Linked DNA regions of Homo sapiens: region 2 is linked to region 1. Evidence: fine-mapped expression QTL. Tissue or cell type: adrenal gland. Region 1 holds a variant in brackets; the other region holds the start of a gene. All regions are shown on one strand. Distances are between the middles of the regions.

Region 1 (8,102 bases):
TATGTTTTTGAAATACAACCATGTTAACATATGTAGATGGAGTTCAATCAAGAACTTGTAGAATAAACCACAATATGTTCATTCCCCTGCTGATAGATATTTAGGTGGTTCCCCATTTTTTACCATCTCAATTAATGCATCAGTGGAGGGCATTTTCAACACAGGCAATGGGCGGTGCCCATTAAGCTGGACAAGAAGGGAAGGACAGCAGGAGGGTTGGATGACTAGTGAGAATGTCAGGGGGCGGTGGAGTAGATGTGCATGGAGGCAATAGATCTAGGGCCCCCCAAGAGCCAAAATGGGTCTGTGAGTTGGAGGATCCAGTGGTAACACAGAGTGGGCGATGATGAGGTCTGGAGTGTGACCCAGGGACTGGGCACCTGAGAGTAAGGAGGAAAGTAAGTTTGTCAGAAACCTGAGAGGCCAAGGTGTTGGCTAGGTCGTTGGCTGGACATTTCCGTGTGGTCCTTCAGCTACACTGTGCATCCTTCTCAGCCCTGCTCTGTGCCCCAGAGGCTGACCTTTAATTACCATCTCAGTGCCCTTTCCCTCAGACTGAGAGATACACAGCCTGGACCAGGGAAGACATGGAGACAGAGCATCCATTCCTCCAGCCCCTCCCCTCAAGGTCCCTGCAGGTAGGCCGTGTCTCTACTGAAACCCACCGCTCATTTCCCTACAATTCTTCTTTCTGGTTATAGCAAATGCCCCCAGCACCTTGTCTTGGGAGCCAGCGTGCTCATCTTGGGTTTCCTCCATGCCAGGGATCATTTTATTGACCTCTTTTCCTCCATTAACCTGTTTACATGTGCCATCTCTTTCCTGCCTGATTGAGTACAGGCCAATCTCATGCATACTGAAATCTTGGGAAATGATGACAAGAGTAAGGGTAGATAGGAAGTCAGTTAGCTGGGTGCAAAAACCTAGTGAGGGGCAGTGTCTGTAAATCTGCATAAAATACAAACTATCCTACATTTTTGTAGTTCACATGTGAGCTCCTTTAAAACTAAAATTCCTGCCTAAATTTTTAGGGGAATTTCTAATGTTAGCACAATATCTGGCATGTAGAAAGCATTTAAAAATGAACATAAGTTGAATAGGACTGAATTAAATTAAATGGAATTAAATTGAATTTTACTGAATAAATGAGATGCTAATTTTGCACATTTTAGACATCCTGGGTGTTCCCCCGTCAAACCCCCTTCCCTCTAGCATATGGTTTATAAAAGCTTCATGAACATCAAATAAATTACATTAGGGATTGAGTTTCTGAAGTGAATAATGAATAATAAATGTTTGCTTATGTTAGCATTTCATGTAGAAAAATGTTTAAGTCATGAAAATTTTGTGATAAATTCAGATCCCTTTAAGCTTTCAGGACCCACTTTCTTTTTTTATTTTTTGAGACAGAGTCTTGCTTTGTCACTCAAGCTGGAGTGCAGTACACGATCACGGCTCACTGCAGTCTTGATCTCCCAGGATCAAGTGATCTTCCCACCTCAGCGTCCTGCGTAGCTGGGACTACAGGTGTATGCCACCACCCCTGGCTAATTTTTTTTATTTTTTAGTACAGACAGGGTCTCACTATGTTGCCCAGGCTAGTCTCAAACTCCTGAGCTCAAGTGATCCTCCTGCCTCGGCCTCCCAAGGTGCTGAGATTATAGGCATGAGCCAGCATGCCCAGCCTGACTCACTTTCTTGATATTGTGTGTATTTTGCTCTTGGAAAACTTTGCTTTCTGTCTCCATGGCAAAAAAACAACTTACAGTGTTTTCAGAACATGTAATTATTGATTTGAAAATAATTTTGTTAGACACATATCTATTAACATTTTCTTGAATTTATAATATTGAATAGGAAGAAACAAAATATAAAATCTTTCTTGTTTTGGTTTTAATCTAAAATACTATATGTCTTTGCATCATATGAGTTAAAGCTTTTCTGGCATTACACAGTGATTGTTCTCTCCAAATAACAGATCGTAGAGATAGTAGGGGAAAAGCAAAGTAAACATGGCTCAATTTGCATTTGGTATTTTTTCGGAGGGTGTGGGTATTTCCTCTTTTTTCCTTTCTCCAAACACTACACAAGCAATAATTTGACTCTATCCCTGTGGCTGCTATTGTCTATATACACATGAAGTTGAATTTCATAGTGCCCGTTATTTGGAAAACATTTAAGTCAGACCTTAAGATTGGGCCTTTCATGCCAAATCAAGGACAGTGGCTAATTTGGGGTTGCCAAAATCACATATTCAATTCTTTATATTCTGTAATAAGAAAAGTCATTTTAAAGCAAAGGATATTGTTGGCACTTATGAATAAGAAATTCTGACTATTCTAATGCAGCAATAAAAATTATTACCTGCAGTCTTATTTTGGAGTAGCCCCAACATAAAAAGTCCAGAGCTAGTAGCTTAGCAGATTTTAACATGTGACAAGTAAGGTGACAGTCTAGAGTCAAAGATTCTATCTCCGCTCTGATTATAGTCTCAGAAATGCATTCGGCTGGTCATAAGAGGAGGAAGTACTGCATGGTCCAGACTAGAATGCTCAACTGGGATGACTTGATCTCCTGTGCCAGCTGCCATAGATGAATCACAGCTCCTGAGGACTGAATTAGGGTTCCCTGAGGAGTGTGCTGGCATCAATTAGTGATGTCTCCCACCACTGGCTAGGGTGGGGGGAATGGCAGCACTCAGGACATGATAGAGATAGCAGAATTTGAAGTTAGAGGATCAGGGTCAGACTCTTATCTCTATCTCTTATTAGCTGTGAGATATCATAATCACCCATTCAGCAATCTTAGTTTTCTCATGTATAAAATGAAGATAACAATTATCAAGAAAATTAAAATTGGTATCACAAATAAAAAAGAATTAAAGTGCAGCTTACATCTTATGAATTGCTAGTGTGTTTTGCCTATCCCAATCTAGTGTTTTCCTTTTTTATCTTTTTGTGTGTATTTGTGTATGACAGGGTCTTGCTCTGTCACCCAGGCTGAAGTGCAGTGGCATAATCATAACTCATTGCAGCCTCAACCTCCCGGGCTCAAAGCAATTCACCCGCTTTAGCCCTCCCGAGTAGCTGGGACTGCAGGCATATGCCACCATGCCCGGCTAATTTTTGTATTTGTTGTAGAGACAGGGTTTCACCATGTTGCCCAGGCTCATCTTGAACTCCTGAGCTCTAGCAATCTCCAGCCTCAGTCCCCCAAACTGCTGGGAGTACAGTTGTGAGCCACCATGCCTGGCCTACTCATGGCATTTTAGTATTCTGTCACTCTTTTGGCAATTAATTGTGAACTACCTACCTACTGACTCACATTAGTGTATTATCTTACTTCACCGTATTTTATTTTTTGTACTGCACACACTTTCTAGCCCATGCCTCTCCTATAGTAGGCAATCCTAAGTGTGAATGAATGTAAACATGTTACTAATAGTATTTTAAAACTCCAAATGCTGACAGGGAGTTGAGTAGTTACTTTTTATTTGAAAGCAGGTATTTTGCATGTTATTTGAAAGGACTATTGTGATTTTATGTTCAGAAGATCATAGTTTTTTGTTTGTTGTTTAAAAACTTTTATTTTTTGAGACAGAGTCTCTGTCACCCAGGCTAGAGTGCAGTGGTGCAATCTCGGCCCACTGCAACCTCCACCTCCCAGGTTCAAGCTGTTCTCGTGCCTCAGCCTTCCAAATAGCTGGGACTATAGGCGTGCACCACCATACCCGGCTAATTTTTATATTTTTATTAGAGATGAGGTTTCACCATGTTGGCCAGGCTGGTCTTGAACTCCTGACCTCAAGTGATCCACCTGCCTTGGCCTCCCAAAGTGCTGGGATTACAGACATGAGCCACCGCGCCTGGGCAACAACATTTTAGTGGACTTTATTTTCAAGGAACTGAGCTGCTTTCTGTGCTTGGGCAGCTCCCCTGAGCAAGTTTGTAGAGGGTGCAGGCAAATGGGCTTGGTGGCACAGGCACAAAGGAGGGGTCTGTATATCTGTGGGGAGACTGCTGACACCCACCGGTAGGTCCCACTTTTGGGGCTGGCGGGTAGGCAGGGCACTGGGCTTGCCCACTGTCTGCACAGCATCGACACCTTCTATTCATCTCTTTACTTCTTGTAACTCCCCTTCCTTTGCTGACACTGGACTCAAAGGATCATAGACGTTTAATGATTTGCTTAGTGACAGGCCCTGGCCATAGCATTGAGCCATCTGGATTCATTGTCCAGTGTTCCCTCCACCACTCAGACCTTTTAAAATCCAGCTTTCCTGCGAGTTGATTTCACTTCCACATAAATCATTTCTTCTAGCTTGCTGGAAAGTTCCTTGGCTTTCTGCTTATCTCTGCAAGGACAGTTAATTCCCTGCTGCTGCTGCCAAGTATGTAAACAACATGTTTCTTCTTTCTGTGGTGACAGGCACATCTTATCATCCTGAGTAGAAGCCCCTCTCAAGTGGAGGCAGCAGACTCGGCACACATCGTCGCCCATGCTGCTGTCGCTTCAGGGAGACACGAGCACCATGGTGAGAAGAATCCTTTTCTCTTCCTGTCTCACAGGCATCTGGGTCTATAAACGAGCTGCCTTCTAGATGGGTTAACAGGTGGACAGAGCCGCGACACAGGCCCGCCACAGAGCCTTCCTTGTTTTATCTGATCATCTGCCCCTATGCTACTCTGCTGCTTTCCTCTGAGTCCTTTGGTTTCTCTCCCCTTCTTCTAGCCTTCTTCTAGTCTTTTATTCTTAAATACAGCCAATCTCTATCCAAATGTTAGCTGTTAAGAGCCCCAGAGCATCTGTACTGGGCTT[A/TA]CGGTAAATCTGCTCTGCTTTCAAAGGTGATCTATTTTTAAAGATTGTTGTGGCAACAGCTCTGGCCTCTGGGCCAGCCGGCCTCCAGGCACTGTCAGGGCTGAACTTTCCATCAGGATGAACTTACACGGCTTCAGGATTCCAAAAGGAAGTTGCCATTTATGGCTTTTTCTTAGGGTTTTTCTTATCCCCGCGTAATAGGTAGAGCATCAAGCTTCAGGAATTATTTAATCCACGTACAGAGCATACAATGTGCCTCCGTTGGCAGAAAACACATAGTACTAATGATTTTTTTTTTTTTTTGGTCATAATATTCAGAAATGGAGTACAATTCATAAAGAAGACCTAGGGGTGTATTCCAAGATATCAGATAAAAATAATTACATACTGAATAAAATAAGGTCCACTGTGCTCAAAAGCATAAAATCAACATCTGGAAGGCATGGGGTTGATTCAGGAAGTAGAAGTCAGGCTAAAATGAGGCCAGCACATGGGAGAAGGTGAAGGGAAAGCTTCAATGAGCAGCCTGGTCTGAAAAGATCCATGGGCCAGGCAGGGAGCTTCGGTCCACAGAGGAACTGATGAAGGGGGCATCGGCATTTATCCATCTGTCCATCACACCTTGCAGATCTCTCATTCTGGCCTACTAGAGCTTGAAGCACCTTTTTAGATCTGGAGGAGCCTGTGTAAGGATGGAGAGAGGAGACAGGTGACCTTTCTTGTCCCTGCTCCCTAGAACATTCCACACTAACCATCAGGTTTGCTTGTTGGTGCCTAAAATTCATGTAATAGGAGGAAAGTACTTTCTATTCCATACCTATTAATAAAACACTTAAAATACATGTTTGATGGAAACTCCTAGAATAGCAAGTCACAAATCTAAATGTCTACAGGAACCAAGCAAGCAATGTGAGTGAAGCAGGTGGTTATCAGAAACCAGCAGCAGCAGCAAGCATAGTTATAAATGGCAGCTAACTGATGGCTGTAGTATGAGAGAGACGAAACAGAGTGGTGAGGATTGTGGCAAACTAAAACCCATACCTGCTACTTAAGCTCCAGCCCTGGCAGCCATGTGGAAGGGAGGCTTATATTGGCAGAGCTCCTTTTTTAAGAGAAGGTGGAAATTTGGAGTTTTATTGGAGAATCTTCAATTTTTTTTTAATTATTTTTTATTTTTTTAGAGACAGGGTCTCACTCTGTCACCCAGGCTGGAATGCAGTGGCGCAATTATAGCCCACTGCAGCCTCAGACTCCTGGGCTCAAGTGGTCTTCCTGCCTCAGCCTGCGAAGTAGGTGGGACTACAGGCACACACTGCTTGCACCCAGCTAATTTAAAAAATTCTTTTTTAAAGACAGAGTCTTGCCAAGGATGGTCTTGAACTCCTGGCCCTAGGCTACCCTCCCATCTTGGCTTCCCAAAACTCTGGGATAACAGGCATGAGCCACCACAGACCCAGCCCAATTTTTAACTGATGGTAACTAACTGAAATATGTTTAAGGCTCTGAGTGAGTCAAAACAAGTGCGAAGGCTGGATCCGTGACTTTTGACCTGGAAAGCAAGAGTGACAGGTTGCTGTCAGATCTTTCCTGTTTTCCTTGGGGGCGTAAACTGGCAGAGTAAGGGGAGGTGGGTCCATTCCTGAATGAATACCAAACCAAACAGAGAGGAGGCTAAGGCCAAAAGACCATCTTTTTGCCTAGAGGGATTCTGGTTTCCAGCACTTGACCCAGTGCTCAGTGTACTCACTGCAGGTATGAATTGAGTGGGACCTAGTGAATCTGTGCCCTAGAATGCTATTGTCCCATAGCTGTGAAGTTAGGCCACTCTGCTTTGCATGACTTTTGGAATCAGAGGCAATCCAATTTTAGTTATATATTTTTAAAAAGTTTTCCAGTCTAAATATAGCACTCTATTGCCTTCTCTTAAATTGAAAATGATAATAATACCTACTTGATACAGATGATAAATGTGTGATAATTAAATGACCTCACACAGTTATAATATTAATAGCTACCGCTTATATATGGCATACCAGCAATGGTTCTCACCACACTACATTTATTAATTCAGAAATCCTTGCAACTCGATGAGATAGGTACATTTATCCCCATTTGTTGGATGGAGAAGTTGAGGCACCCAGAGATTAGGTAATTTTTCCAAGGGCCCATAACCAGTGAGTGGTAAAGATATGAACCCAGGCAGCCAACCACCCCAGAGGCTCTTTATGCCATGTCATGTTATAGGGTCTGGCACTTCACATGTCTCCTCCCACCTTAGGCCCACCAAAAGAATCTGTGGGCAGACAAGGGACACAGGAAGAATGAAGGCAGCCCAGAGAAAAGGGTTTGGAGTGCCAATGGGAAGGCCTGGGGCCCAGGAGCATGCGGAGAATCTCAGCTCCAACCTGCAGCAGCTGAGGGCATTCGGTGACATGCACTCAGAAAGCCCACTTGCCAGTCAGAATTGAAATATGTGAGGAGCCACTTTGGGAGGCCAAGATGGGTGGATCACATGAGGTCAGGAGTTCGAGACCAGCCTGGCCAGCATAATGAAACCCCGTCTCTACTGAAAATACAAAAATTAGCCAGGTGTGGTGGTGCGCGCCTGTAGTCCCAGCTACTTGGGAGGCTGAGGCATGAGAGTCACTTGAACCTGGGAGGCAAAGGTTACAGTGAGCCAAGATTGTGCCACTGCACTCCAGCCTGGGCAACACAGCAATACTCTGTCTCCAAAAAAAAAAAAAATGTGAGAAACATAAAGTAGATGGGTAAGAAGACAACTTCTCCCAGGCACAAGGAGTTGGGACTGATAGTTTTACAAATTGGGAAAGGGGGTGACTTCTGCATTAGGCCTGGAGGATTGGTTGCTTGAAGCAGAAGCAAAAGACGACTGAGAGGCCGGGCCCAGTGGCTCACACCTGTAATCCCAGCACTTTGGGAGGCCGAGGTGGGTGGATCACGAGGTCAAGAGATAGAGACCATCAAACCATCCTGGCCAACATGGTGAAACCCCATCTCTACTAAAAATACAAAAAATTAGCTGGGTGTTGTGTTGCGCACCTGTAGTCCCAGCTACTCGGGAGGCTGAGGCATGAGAATCACTTGAACCCTGGAGGCAGAGGTTGCCGTGAGCCGAGATTGTACCACTGCACTACAGCCTGGCGACAGAGCGAGACTCAGTCTCAAAAAAAAAAAAAAAAAAAAAAGACGGAGAGACTCAGGAGCAAGCAAGAATCATAATAGTGACAGTAACAACCATAGCAGCAGCACTTGGGCACCTCTTG
Region 2 (8,102 bases), 70 kb after region 1:
TTCCAGTCAGCCTCAGCAGCTAAGGGCTCACTTTCATAAGCAAAAATCTCCGTGTTTGCAGGGTGAAGCTGGTCTCCACTTTATCGCAAATGTCTTCAAGTGTTTTCTGAAGCCCCCTCCTGCAGCCTGGGTGTGTCACTCAGGCTTCAAGTGATCTAGATCACATTTGGGAACTTGGATGTCAGTTCAGCAAACTCTTCTCGGGCAAATCTGAGGCCAGGCCTGGGGCAGGCCAATGACTACCGCCTCATACAGTGAAGGCGCATGGGCCATCTGGGAAGGACCAGTTTCCCCTCAAGTAGAATCCTAGCAAGCATCTTCCCCCTTGAGCCACAGAAGCTATAGCCAGAGGCAGGGAGAGCTGGGCACAATGTGGCAGCACCCTCTGCTGCCTCCAGCTCCTGCCTCCAGGGGAGGGGGGCATTAAAGCACATGGAACACAGAAAAAAAGAAATGAAAGAAAATAGTTTTAATGCCAAAACTATTCAGCCAGCTGGAGGGGTCTAAAAGCATTTTAGGACTTGAAATCAGCAGAGTACCTCGGGCTAGCCCTTAGGAAGAGCAATTATCATTATGCTATGAATGCAAGAATACTGGTTAAAGGTTTCTCTCTGATCAAACAGACAGAAGAGAGAAACGGACGCCCAGCGGTCAGTTGCTCAGGCACTAGAGCCTGAGTTGAATCCTGGCTTAACTACTTACTAATCAGGTGACTTATGTGCCTCAGCTTCCTCCTCTGTAAAATGGAGCTTATATTAGTACCCACTTCGTAACACTGGTGTGGGCACTGAGAGTGAATATTTGTGAAGGGCATCTGTGGTACCTGGCACACACGAAGCACTTGCTAAAGGCTCTTAGTAATAAGATATTTATTACCATATACTAATTCAACCCATTTTTAGGATTTTTTCACTCTCCCCATAGTAAGCTTCTACAGAACCCGAAAAAAATTACAGGCTTGGGGTTAAATCATCCATACTCCCTCTTTCACATACTTCCTAGCATCTCTGTGATTGGTGCTGAATCTTCTGGAATGCAATTTGAAATGGAGTTGACTTAAGTTAACTGAGGGAAGATTCAGTATATGGACAAGGTAGTGACTGGTAACACTTAGTGCAGTAAAACCTCTGCAAATTGGAACTGGAAAAAAAAAATGGCCGGGCACATGGCTCACACCTGTAATTTCAGCACTGTGGGAGGCCACGGCCGGTGGATCACTTGAGGTCAGGAGTTTGAGACCAGGCTGGCCAACATGGTGAAACCCTGTATCTACTAAAAATACAAAAATTAGCCAGGCGGGGTGGTGGGATCCTGTACTCCCAGCTACTCGGGAGGCTGAGGCACGAGAATCACTTGAGCCCAGGAAGCGGATGTTGCGGTGTGCCGAGATCAGCCACTGCACTCCAGCCTGGGCGACAGAGCAAGACTCCGTCTCAAAAAACCAAAACCAAAACCAAAACCAAAACCAAAAAAAAAACAAAACAAAAAACAAAAAAAAAAACCAGGTCCTTATTGACATTTTCCTCGCTCTTTGCTTTTAGGAAAAAGCAGCAAATTCCAACAAGAGAGAAGTATCACTGGATGGCAAACGGAGAGTGGGGTCCCAGCCTCACTCTGAGGGCAGGTATGACCTCAGGAAAAGCACTTCCCCGGTGGGCCCTGGAGTCCCTGTGTCAAAGGAGGGCTGCACAGGATTCTAACTGCACTTCAAGTCCCCATGTCTCCTCCAGTCAGGGGAACTCTGCTTTCATATGGCTCACATTACGAGTTCCACTGAAGGTTTCATTAGTGGGGAAAAGGGCTTTGCCGCTAAGAAAGAACACTGGAACCAGAATTTGAAGGTCTGAAATGTGCCAAGTGAGCTGTGGCTGTGAACGCATGGTGACGATTTGGTCCACACAGCGTGGCTCAAAGCAGCATTTTCTAAACCTGCCTGCACAGCACAGACCCCTGAGTTGGTAGCGAGGGTTCCCTACAAAGGGGTTCCCTGGGCAGTAGGTTTGACAGATACTCCTTTTTGGAGAGTCAAAATAACCACTGGTCAAATCTCCATGAATGCCACATTAAGGCACTTTTTAACTTTCACTCAACAACGAGTATAGGACCTGTGGAACTCAGACCCCTGGCCACTGTCATTGCAAAGGGACACAAGTGCTCACAAGTGGAAATCGGTACACACTGGGTCAGTCCCTGTCCCTGCTCTAGCTATGGCAAAGCCCCAAGAGAACACTTTGAAAAGTTATGAGGCGGAAGCCAAACAAAACCCACAACTCAAAAGATTAAATCCCAATGTAGTACCATATTGCATTCTATGATTTCCCATCTAGCCTGTAGCTCTTTGCATACTGAAAGTCTAGGGCAGTGCTGGGGACCCAGGGAGAATCAACAGGTATTTACTCATCACCTGTGGATACCTGTCACATCACCGCAGTCATTCCATATGACAACCCCCATGTTCCTCTCACTTCTAATTTTTAAAAGTCAGTCTCAAATCTTTAACTCACAGCTGCAAACTGTACTCTTAAAATATTTGTGAAATTGTGCAGATGTTATTTCCATCTGTCCTTTTGAGAACTACTGATAGTGTGATTTGGGAATATTTCCAATTCTGGCTGAGGCAGGGCAGGGCGAGGGCCAAACGCTAGGGCTGGACTGGGCATAGTTTACATCAGCCACAGGTGTCACCCCGCCGGTGTCAGAGGGTTTGCTTCCCTGAAATAGTAACTGTTTATATCACTCTGCACTTGTAATAACATCCTGCCAAAGGGCCCCACTTTCCCACAACTTTTACACTACGCAGAGATCTGACGTCAGCGTGTGCTGTGAGCAAAACATCTTCGATCAAGCTCTGTTCTGCATGAGGGTTGCTGCCCCTCCCAAGATCAAACAAGGCAGCCGCCCAGAGAGCCACAACTGCGGCTTCCAACTGGGAAATCATATTGGCAAAATAAAAACCGTTTTGGAAATTAATTTGAGTTTTCCCCTGAGGAGCGCTATAGACAGCGGGGCTACCATAAGCCGTCACTTCTGCAAGTGAGAGAGGTTTCTCGGTTGACTCTTAGATCTGGGTCTACTGAGTCTACGGAGCACGGAAAATGGAAGGAAAACCTAGAGCTAACAGGGTGGCCTATCAGGATGCGCCCAGTCACGCTTGTCAAGAGTTAAAGCAGCTGCCACCTAACCCCATGACGAGGACGGGGCTATCCGCTAGGACCTGCCGCCCCGCGCTCGCCCGCTGAGTCGATGGACCAGCGGACCGAGTCCGGGTCCCCATGCCATTCGGGCACCCTCTGGGCGGGCCCTACCGGTCCGCGACGCCGCGCCCCTGGTGAAGGGGCCGCTGCCCCACGCCGTCAAGGGCAGGGTGCTGGGGCGACGGCAGCGGGTATGGGGTCAGCGCGCCATCCCCGCGCACGGACCTGCCGCTCCTCGGCCTGTATCCCGTACTCCTCGCGCATCCGCAGCAGCGCGTCCTCCAGCCGCGCGCGCAGCTGCTCCAACCCGAGCGCCTCGCGCCGCAGCGCCTCTGCCTCCTGCGCGCACAGCCGCGTCTCTTCCTCCGCCTGGAGTCTGCTCTCCTGGCCGCGCCGCAGCGCCTCCTCCAGCTCGCGCACCTCGTCCTCGTACAGCTGCACCGTCTCCCGCCACGACTCGGCCACCAGCAGTGCGTAGCTGTCGTGCACCTCCCGCAGGCGTGGCGGCGGCGCGGCGGGGCCGGTGGCGCGGGCGCGGAAATGCATGGTAAGGCTGGCGGCGCGCGCGCGCAGCTCCCTCACGTCGCGTTCGTGGGCCGCGTCGAGGCCTCGGCGCTCGGCCTGCAGCCGGCCCAGCAGCGCCTCGAGGGCGGCGCGCGCGCCCAGCGCCTCCTGCAGCTCGCGCTGCTGCGCACCCAGCTCGGCGTCCAGGCGGCCGCGGGCGGCGCGCTCCTCCGCATCCAGGCGCTGCAGCTCCCGCAGCTCGCGCCGCAGAGCGTCCCGCTCGCCCTCCGCCAGCGCAGTGGCCCAGCTCAGCTCGTCCAGCTGCTGCCGCAAGCTGCGCGCCTCCTCGGCGCAGCGGGCCTGCCCCTCGGCCCACAGGCCCTCTCGCCCGCGCCGGCCGCGCAGCTCCTCCTCCAGGAGTAGGTTTTCGCGCTCCAGCTCCCGCACCCGACACACGTAGTCATAGAGCCGGGCGTTGAGCTCCTGGAGCTCGGCCTTCTCGGGGCCCGTCTGCAGCCGCCAGGACAGCATCTTGCCGGGCGTGCGGGGTTCTCGCGGCTGGCCGGCTCCCTCCTGCCCTGGTCTTGTCCCGGTCTCGTCCTCTCCGCCGCGACGCTCCGGCCTCGCCGCTGCCCCGGAGGCCCGCAGACTGGGACGCGAGCGGGAGAGCCCAGGCACTTAGCGGACGGGGCGGGCAGACTGGGCGGGCGGCCTGGGCGAGGGCCGCGGCCTCCAGCCAATCAGAGCGCGGCCCGGCGCGGCCTCTGCGGCCGCACAGCGCCCCCTGCCGCACCTTGGCGGCCGCAGGTGGTCGGTGCGGGCAGTCGGGTAACAGCGGGCGGGGTGGCGGGCTAGCCAGGCCGGGCTCAGCGAAGGGACGCCGGAGAGGGCGTCCGGGAGCATACGAGTGTCCTGGCCTTGGTGGATGGAAATAGAAGCCTATTGAGTTGCTGTGGTGCTGGCGATTTTGGAGCGACTTCTTACCCGAGGCCCTGGAGATTGGTGGCTTTTCTATTTTTAAAAAAACGATATGGGCCGGGCGCGGTGGCTCAGGCCTATAATCCCAGCATTTTGGGAAGCCGAGGTGGGAGGCTCGCTTGAGCCCAGGAGTTCGAGACCAGCCTGAGCAACATAGAGAGACCCTGTCTCTACCAAAAAAAAAAAAAAAAAAAAAATATATATATATATATATATATATGGAGCCTGGCGTGGTGGTGTCACACGCGCTGCTTGGGAGGCTGAGGCGGGAGGATTACTCGAACCCAGGAGTTCAGGGCTGCAGTGAACCTGATTGTGGCACTGCGCTCCAGCCTGGGCAACAGAGAGAGGCCTCATCTCATATATATACATTACACATACATGTGCATTAATTTTTTTTTTTTTTTTTTTGAGACAGAGTGTCGCTCTTGTTGCCCAGGCTGGAGTGCAATGGCACGATCTCGGCTCACCACAGCCTCCGCCTCCCGGGTTCAAGCGATTCTCCTGCCTCAGCCTCCCGAGTAACCGGGATTACAGGCCAGCGCCACCACGCCTGGCTAATTTTTTTTTTTTTTTTTTTTTTTTTTTTTTGTATTTTTGGTAGAGACGGGGTTTCTCCATGTTGGTCAGGCTGGTCTCGAACTCACGACCTCAGGTGATCCGCCCACCTCGGCCTCCCAAAGTCCTGGGATTACTGGCGTGAGCTACCGTGCCCAGCCTAAATAATCTTTTTAACTTAAAACATAAATATATATCCATTTACCAGTATTTTAATGTGCAAAATACTTCTCTTGATGTCAGTTGACAGGAGTCCCAGTTGCCCTTCTTATACAAGCTACCCTCATAGTACATTACATTTTCCAAAACGAATTTCTTTCATTTGGAGTGAAAACTTAGAGACCATAAAGTGCTCCAAGTACAGAACTTTCTAGACATCTAACATCTCCCCGAACTTTTACAAATCTCACACACACACCCCTAATGTGACAGCTGTTTCTTTCCAGCATTTCCCTAAGAAAGTATTCAGTTTAATTGCCATGGAAACCACAGCTCTTTTTTGTACACTTGCATTTCATTAGTTTTCATGGCAGTTATTTATGAATGACAGTTCTCAGTATAAGTGTCATTAAGGCTCACAGGGACAAACCAGCTGACCCTTGGTTGGGGTGCCCTTGAACTTGTGGCAACACAAGTGCCCAGGGCGAGACCTGGACGGTCATCCACTGGCCAGAGGGCTCCTCATGGCAGGGCCAGCAGTTAGTGTATTTTACAGATGGCATGGAAAGGTGGACTACTCAGCAAGCTGGTCCAGGGCCTCTGACAAAGCTTCTAGTGCTCTCCTTGTCACAGCCATGAGCCTCCAATCACAAGCAAGGCAGAAAGTGGCCCTTCCTTTTTCTAGAGACCCTATGTTGGAGATCCCATTCTGTAGGTGGTAGAAATTAATATCTTTCAATGAATAATTCCCTGTCCTTTTCTGCTAAAACTAAGTGGGGGTGGAAAGTGGGTTTATTCAGTGCTTGGGTTCATTCACCTTGGTGTGGGACAGGGGGATTTGGACCCCCATCACCCCATCATTGTCCATCCTCCCATTCCCCCAGGTGCACACTGACACCTGGCCTTTGCTTGTCAAACACCAGAGCTGCTGTGGTGTCATCGCCCAAACCTATGTGGAGACCCTGCCGGTCCTGGGCCCCTCTGGGACATTGGGGTGCGGGGGGGCGGCTCTCACAGTTGCCTGGACTCCGCTGCAGCTGTTTGTTCTCAGCTCTTTGACTCCCCACGCTAACGGGTTCTGCTGTCCCACATCCCCTGGCTGGGCAGGGGGCAGCCCTGCAGGGTGGGAGAGCCTTCTCAGGGACCAGTGAGTCCCAGCAGGACACTTTGCAGTGACTCATTAGTCTTTCTTTGCCCAGTGCCCTTCAGGGTCTTGGACTTTGAAACTCAAAACCCTTTCCCCCATTTCTGCTGTAAATCCTGTCCCTGAGGAATTGACTGCTCCAGCATGCAGCTGCCCCGGTAGGGAAAGAGTTATAGGGGATCAGGAACTAGCAGGGCCGGGAGGTGGGAGGGGGGAAGTACCCCCAGCTACTCTTTCAGGATAATATCCTGCTGCTTCATACTGAATCCTCACAACACTGAAGCTCGGAGGGGTGAAGTGACTAGAAGTATTAGAGTTGTGACCACAAGAGCAGACTTGAGCAGGCAGGGTCTGGCCAGGAAGCAGAGGCAAACTCAGAGGGAAGGGAATGATTGATGGGATGGGGATGGATGGGATGAGGAAGCACCAGGGACCAGCAAGAGCAAGAAGCTAAGAAGCCGTTAGCGCCTTAGGGTGTTGGCTGAGCCTGGAGAAGCCCAGAGCGCTGGAAAAGAGGAGCAGAATGGATCCCAGGAGGGAGCAAGAGGAGGAAAACCCAGTTCTTCCTTCATCCAAGCCTCCCTTCTCTTGCCAATACTTCCCGCTGTGGAAGCCAGAAGTCACAGGAGCCTGGCAGTGGTGCACTGCGGTTGGCTCCCACAGGTTTGTGAGTGCCAACTGTTAAATTTTTAGAATTTTATGAACCACTTGTTAAACACAGCCATTATTAAAAATTAATTATAGAAGCTTACAACTAATTATACAAAAAGAGCAAACACATATTCAAAACGTATCACTTCCTCAGTATTTCACTGCATTTTCCTATGATCTGCTCTTGAAGTTATGAATGAGCAGTGTGCCTGCACCATAGAAATGCCATTTAATGTGTACTACCCTACTCCATATTCACTGACATCATGTTGGTAGCTTGAGTATTTACAACACAGAAATCAGCCAATGACTTGTTTTTGTGGATTTGATGTTTTGTTGATTGTCTAGCCTTTAAAAGCAGTGGAGAGTATGTTAATAGTGCAGATTAAATTTAGTGGTATGTTGTGTGTCTAGCTATTGAATTGTGAACAGCACAAAAACGTGAGGAAATGTTTGTCCGGTGTCTCGAAACTTGTATCCAGATCAGGAAAGAAGTTGCTTCATAGCTGGGCGTGGTGGCTTACACTCGTAATACCAAGACTTTGGGAGGCCAAGGCATGCAGAGCACTTGAGCTCAGGAGTTCGAGACCAGCCTGGACATGGCAAAACCCCCTCTCTACAAAAAATACAAAAATTAACTGGGCATGGTGGCATGCACCTGTAATCCCAGCTACTTGGGAGGCTGAAGTGAGAGGATTCCTTGAGCCCAGGAGATCGAGGTTTTGGTGAGCCATGATTGAGCCGTTGCACTCCAGCCTGGGTAGCAGAGTGAGATCCTGTCTTAACAAAATTTAAAAATACAAAAAAAATTTAAAAAGAAGTTACATCATGATGAAGAATAAATGAAATTTCTCAGTTATTTCACCTTTGTCTTTCTTGCTAAGGTAAACAAAAATATCAATCAATATTCATGG

Alleles and levels. Positions count from the first base shown, and alleles are read on the strand shown. Sizes are in standard deviations (SD) of each study's normalised expression.
As copies of TA replace A in region 1, the expression in adrenal gland of the gene that starts at base 4,349 in region 2 goes up (moderate effect, 0.45 SD a copy in GTEx).

Evidence for each region. PIP is the estimated chance that this variant, and not a neighbour inherited with it, causes the effect.
Region 2: it holds the start of SYNM, and the variant in region 1 is fine-mapped to the expression of SYNM in adrenal gland (GTEx, PIP above 0.99). The same link has a PIP of 0.9 or more in ovary.

The regions. Positions count from the first base shown.
Region 1 is chr15:99,171,482-99,179,583 of GRCh38, reverse strand. TTC23 (tetratricopeptide repeat domain 23) reads left to right here. Exons shown (of 14, transcript NM_001288615.3): 10 at 4,429-4,534. Among named protein-coding and RNA genes, the nearest start is that of TTC23-AS1, 36 kb to the right of the region's middle. The variant A/TA (reference allele first, on the strand shown) is at 4,819.
Region 2 is chr15:99,101,327-99,109,428 of GRCh38, reverse strand. SYNM (synemin) reads right to left here and starts at 4,349. Exons shown (of 4, transcript NM_145728.3): 1 at 3,420-4,349. The coding sequence starts at 4,229. SYNM-AS1 (SYNM antisense RNA 1) reads left to right here and starts at 3,552. Exons shown (of 3, transcript NR_187219.1): 1 at 3,552-3,741. RefSeq lists silencers at 3,240-3,409, 3,690-4,599.